2 separate regions of the Homo sapiens genome follow, and region 2 is linked to region 1. Evidence: fine-mapped expression QTL. A gene starts in region 1. The other region holds a variant in brackets. All regions are shown on one strand. Distances are between the middles of the regions. Region 1 holds the start of LINC00402 (long intergenic non-protein coding RNA 402). Region 2 overlaps LINC00402 (long intergenic non-protein coding RNA 402).

The links. PIP is the estimated chance that this variant, and not a neighbour inherited with it, causes the effect.
Region 2: its variant is the best candidate, but not a certain one, in a credible set for the expression of LINC00402 in whole blood (INTERVAL, PIP 0.79).

The regions. Positions count from the first base shown.
Region 1 is chr13:74,230,056-74,232,985 of GRCh38, forward strand. LINC00402 (long intergenic non-protein coding RNA 402) reads left to right here and starts at 1,389. Exons shown (of 2, transcript NR_144451.1): 1 at 1,389-1,697. It also overlaps a transcript of KLF12 not described here.
Region 2 is chr13:74,256,567-74,259,496 of GRCh38, forward strand. It overlaps LINC00402 (long intergenic non-protein coding RNA 402), which reads left to right. Exons shown (of 2, transcript NR_144451.1): 2 at 367-2,930. It also overlaps a transcript of KLF12 not described here. Among named protein-coding and RNA genes, the nearest start is that of LINC00402, 27 kb to the left of the region's middle. The variant A/G (reference allele first, on the strand shown) is at 1,263.

The DNA.
Region 1 (2,930 bases):
GATTTGGCTGTGTCCCCACCCAAATCTCATCTTAAATTGTAGTTCCCATAATCCCCATGTGTGTTGGGAGGGACCTGGTCGGAGGTAATTGAATCATGGGGGCAGTTCCCCTGATGCTATTCTTGTGATAGTAAGTTCTCACGAGATCATATGGTTTTATAAGGAGCTTCCCCCTTCACTTGACTTTCATTCTTCTCCTTCCTGCTGCCACGTGAAGAAGGACATGATTGTAAGTTTCCTGAGGCCTCCCCAGCCCTGCAGAACTGTGAGTCAGTTAAACCTCTTTCCTTTACAAACTACCCAGTCTTGGGCAGTTCTTTATAGCAGCGTGAGAATGGACTAATACACGTATCTTTAAGTTTTCTGTGGTGAAGATTAAGCATGGCAGACACAGAGTATGTACCCAATAAATAATAGGTATAATTGTGCTCATCCACACTCTCATCAATTACCTGGCAAAAATTCTATTCAAGGGCTAGGACTCTGCTACTCCACTCCAATCCTCTTCAGTTCCACTATGTTTACCTCAGTTCCCCAACCAAATGGGTAACAGCTGGTTTTGCATGAAAGTGAGCAACTATGGAGGCAGAGGATTGTCTCCTCACGTACTCGGGATGAATTCTACCCCGAGGCACCACACCCTTGTTGGGCCAACTGCACAGAATTCTGTGCATGCACGACTATCAAGTGTTTATCTATTGCCCCAGAAGCAAGCTTCTCTAAACCTGGTGCTTGTTTCTCTCCTATGCTTCCATCTCCTGTTGACCTCCCTTCCAATTCTTTCCAATGTGCCTCATGGAATTTTCATTCTGTTATGAGTAACCCTCTGTTGATCTCCTAGTTTTCATTAAACGTTGTCTGTGCTTCAAGAACACTGAATATCTTTTTGCTGTGTTAAATCCAAAGCTTAGTCATTGGTCCTCATCTTAGTTGAATCCTCAGTACTTTCGCTACTACCACCCTTGTACAAGCTGCTACCTTTTTTTTTTTTTTGCCTGAAATGATACAGTAGTGTATAAACCAAGTATCTCTGCTTGCATCGTCATCTGCCTGTCATGTATGCTCAATGTAGTAACCACAGTGATCCTTATAAAAGTAAAGTCAGGTAAATGTCACTCCTTGGCTACTTCAGGTCAGGGACCATGTCATTTTTTTTTTTCCCTCTGTATCTCCAGGGCTTATCGCTGAAACTTAGCAGGCACTCAGTAAATATTTTGCTAAGCAGTTAAAACTAAGAGAAGAAAGAGGAGGGAGAAATATGGTAATCACTTACCACATCCTCTTTTAACCTCTTGAATATCTTACCAATGTCTTCTTTTGTTCTTACTTTCACATCATTTGATTTGATAAAACAAAACTATTATCTAGAGAGGTAAGGCAGACTTGTGAACTGGACCCGTAGAAGTTAAGTGATGTCCCTGTTTGCAGTGTCAATGAGATTGAGGGCTTGGGCTTGAACCCAACCTTCTCCCTCCAAATAGCCTGCTCTTTCTGTTATGTCATGTTTCATATACAAGTTTGGGAGCCTCCAGCCCTGACTATCCCAACATATACAACATAATGTATATGTTGTCTTTGGAAATATCTTCTGTGAAGGCCAAGCATTTAATATTACAGGAAACCTTGAAGTGGATATGGAAGCTTGGCAGCCAGCTTGGATCTTCCTAAGAGCCTCTTTCCTTCATACCATCTTCAGAGTACGTATCATTCAATAGAGACTCTCTTGCACAGGAATTATTATTATATGCTTGCAAATAGTCTCAACCAAAATCTTTAACCTGGAAATGAAGATGGGCTACTGTCTAGGAAGCCTCTGATTTTGTTATTGGTTTTTATTATCATGTTAGGTTTGTATATTAAGGAGAAAAATTGGCAGAGAGCATCTAACCTATTAAAATTAGATATTCAAAGAAATTTAGTTTTGGGGGGTCTGAATTGATAATATAACATATGGAAGTTAAAATTCTAGAAGCTATGTTTACTATATGATTTCATGGTGTAACAAGATCTGGGAGTAACATAAACTAATCTACCTTCCCTTGTAAACAATCATCTTCCTTCCAAGTCTTGCTGGCAGAGGAAGAGGTTGTGGGACAGTGTGGGAAGAAGGAGGGAGTCAGAGTTAATTTCATTATGTGCTTCCTAAAGAATGGGTTATTCAACAAAAACACTAGTAACAACAGCAACAATGAAACTCCACCTCTCTGAAGTGTATAGAAGATTAATATGATATTTAAGTACATTTTAAATAGATTTTCTATTTCCAAATTGATAACTGTGGTCATGTAAACTTTCATGATCCTTTGCGGCTGACTCTCTTGTATGTCCATTTGGCAGTCTCAGTTTCTGCTACATTAATTTGACCTTGATAATTTATTCATTCATATATGTTTGTATTATTTCTTGAACCAGATTACTATAAGAAACTGTCTTGTTCTTGTCATATCTTTTTCCATGCTCTCACACCTCTAAATAATTATCTAAACCTAAAAAAGGATAAGTACTTTTTAGAAATTTACTTTACATTCAAAGTAGAGTGTCTTATCTAGGTTTGACAGTTTTTACACTCTGAAAATTGAAACTATATCAACAAAAGTAATTTTATACACTGTCCCAAGCTTTTAAGAAAGTGATAAATATACACTGTATATGACATTGAAGTACATTTTGAATAGCTTTTCTATTTCTATCTTGATAATTATGTGGTCCCACGTAGGTCAACAACAACAAAAAAGTGTTGGGCCATCCCATGTAGGTTGACAACAACAAAAAAGTGATAGGTATACAGTGATCTTTATACCTATCAAATTTTGTTGATCTTATTTATTTATTATTATTATTATTTTCTGAGACAGAGTCTTGCTCTGTCGCCCAGGCTGGAGTGCAGTGGCGTGATCTCAGCTCACTGCAACCTCCGCCTCCTGGGTTCA
Region 2 (2,930 bases), 27 kb after region 1:
CCCACCAGCGAATCAGTAGGGTAAAGCTAGCACTTCAACACATTGGTGGTGGTGGTAGTGAGGGGGTGAGTTTATACAGCATTAAGCTTTTCTTTTATTAGTGGAAAACTCTGAGTAGAGCTTGTGTGTGTGTGTGTGTGTGTGTGTGTGTGTCTAAGATTTTCCTATCTGTTGCCACGCTGTTTTGGAAACGGCCTACTATTTGCAGACTCACTGTCATTCACTAGTCCCGATTTTAATCACTGTTTGATCTTATATTACACATGAAATGGTAGAATAATAATTAAATTTTGTGTCACTGTCCCTGAAGACATATTTTCATATATTAATTGCTGATTAATCTTCTACTTTTTTTTGTTGTTGCAGTTGTTATTCCGTGACATCTTATCTACTTAAGCAGCTAACCCATGAGGCATCCAAAACAGAGAGAAAAAACAGAGTGAACATTTTGCCTTATGGAATTGTCAAAAGTTGCGGTCGAAACACAGGCAAGATTTGGAAGAATCTGTAATGAGCCAGGGCCAGTTTTCCTAGTTATAGAGCCTAGGCTGGAGGAGGTACATGGGCTGGGGAAGGAGAGGGAATTAGAGATTGGCTGTTCCTGGAAACTCTCTGCCTGTACTCCATGGCCTGAGTCCCAGGACCTGGAAGCGGCTGAAAATCTGAGATATAGAAGAGACTGGTGCTGCCTTTCTGGGGAGGGCTTGGGAAAACAGCAAGTTCCCTGAATTTTTCCATGGCACAGGAGCAGATGAAATGTCATGATTGGTGTCCAGGCTAGTGGACTGAGTTAACTCCCGAGAGTCCCTGTACTCTCCAGCATGGCACGAGGAGAAGCAAACCATTTTCCTATGCAGCCATAGGAAAACGGTACAAACACGACACTGAAATTCAGCTGACCGCAAGAGCTTGATGGTCAGTGTGAGCCAGATGGAGCAGGAACATGTATGGATGGAAAACCCAGATCCAAAGTTCATCCCCCTCTCCCGTGGATGCTCCAGCACATTGCAAGGTTTCCCAGAAACTTAGAGGCAACCTTGGCACAAGGACATGATTTGTTGGAAATTAAGTTTTGTCACCTGGGGGACTGCGAGCTTGATACGGAAATTAATTCAGTTATATAATTATAAAAATGATGCACTTTCTACACATCTGATTTTGTGAACCCAAATTAGTTTCCACAACGCAACTGTGTTAACATTTGCCAACCTCTGGGGCAACATTGGTTGTCTTTGTTGCTTTTTTCTAGAAGTTTTCAGCTC[A/G]AACTCATCTTTCCCTTTTTTATTTTCATTTCTAAATTCTGGTGAGTGGTGTTTTGATAAGTAGATATCAGCTATTTCCTGTCTTACTTGAAAAGTCTTCTCTGTATTAAATAACAAAGGTCACTTAGATAAATATCTTCTCATTACCAGAGGGTAGGGAACTGCTTCTCCTATACATAACTTCTATTATCTTTCAATCCAGAAAAAAAAACGTGGCAGGAGGACAAGTTTTTGAATGTTATGAATCGTGATTTCTGTGTCTAAAATCTGCTCTTTTGTTAACACTAAGGGCAACTTCCTTCAAAGTGGTTCATCTTGGTCTATTACTGTGTTTGTGTGTGTGTGTGTGTGTGTGTGTGTGTGTGTGTGTGTGTGTAGTAAAACCAAAGTTTCCTATTATTTTTGAAGGTATTTGGCCCTGCTGGAAGACAGCTATGTATAAGTTGAACTTGGCAGAGAGAAAGGGAAACCAGATCTTACTCCCAGGCCTCCTGTCACCAGCTGTGTGACTTTGCTGAAGTCATTTCTTTCCCCTAAGTCTCAGTTCCAATACCTATAAAGTGAGTGTTCTGCCTGTGTGTGTTTTAGGTCTTTATTAATGTTGAAATGTCCTGACTTTATGGGTTCTCATTCACTGTGATGTGGTAACCAAAACAAGCAGAGATTAATAACCAGGACTCAATAATGTAAAACACTAAAAATTATATTTTTGCAAATTTTTGTAAACGCGGGATCATATCTCTCTCAGTGACAGTATTGGTGTGATCCATTATTGTACATTTAGTGGATAAACAGAATGTAACTAAGAAGTGTTATCTTTGTTATCAGGGGAACGTGGAGTTGGATGTGTATGATGGGGATGGGCAGTTAATTCATAGGTTAAACACTCAACGAGGGAATATCTCTTTATCGCTATCTCCAAAGACTCCCCACTCTTCCTCAATTTTCTTAGTAACTCACTGCTCAGACTTAGTTTCCCCAGAAGCAGACTATGAGACCAGGATTTGATGCAAGCAGTTTTTTTGGAGTTGATCTCAGAAAGGCTAAGAGAGTAGAGAAGTAATACAGAGAAGTGAAGAAAGCTAATAGAAGGTCCCGGTGCTCTCTCCTGAAAGAGAGCGCTGGAAGACTGAGTAGAACATGCCCCAGAGTTGTCCCCCTCTGCTGGGGCAAGAGAACTAGGGTACTGATCAGCTAATTTCCGTGCTTCACTGGTTAAGGGCATTAACCTCCCCAAACTTCTGGCCTGTGCCCCAGATAGACCAGGCATGCTTCTGTGGCCAGAGAAAGCCCGAGGATGGAGAGTCACAGATGCTTGTGGTAGGTAGCAGGTGGTGTGTATGGAAATGGGAATGGGATGCCAAGGGGATTTGGGCAGGGCACCAAGCATCTGCCGCATTACCCTAATCCAGGCAATAACACTCACAGTATCCCAGGGATTCCCCTTCTAGCCTCGAATTCCTCTTATTCTCATTTATTTTGTATTTACTTTCTAGACCATAGTTTCTCAGATAGTAAAGGTTCTACTGACTTTCCTCATCTCTCTGCAACCTCTTTCCTGCCTAGCTTCTCTTCCATGGTCAAGCCAATACACACAGAATTTTGCCTTCCATTCTTCACTCAGGTGTTTCTTCCACTTGGAATCTGTTCCTCAGTCATTTTCACTAA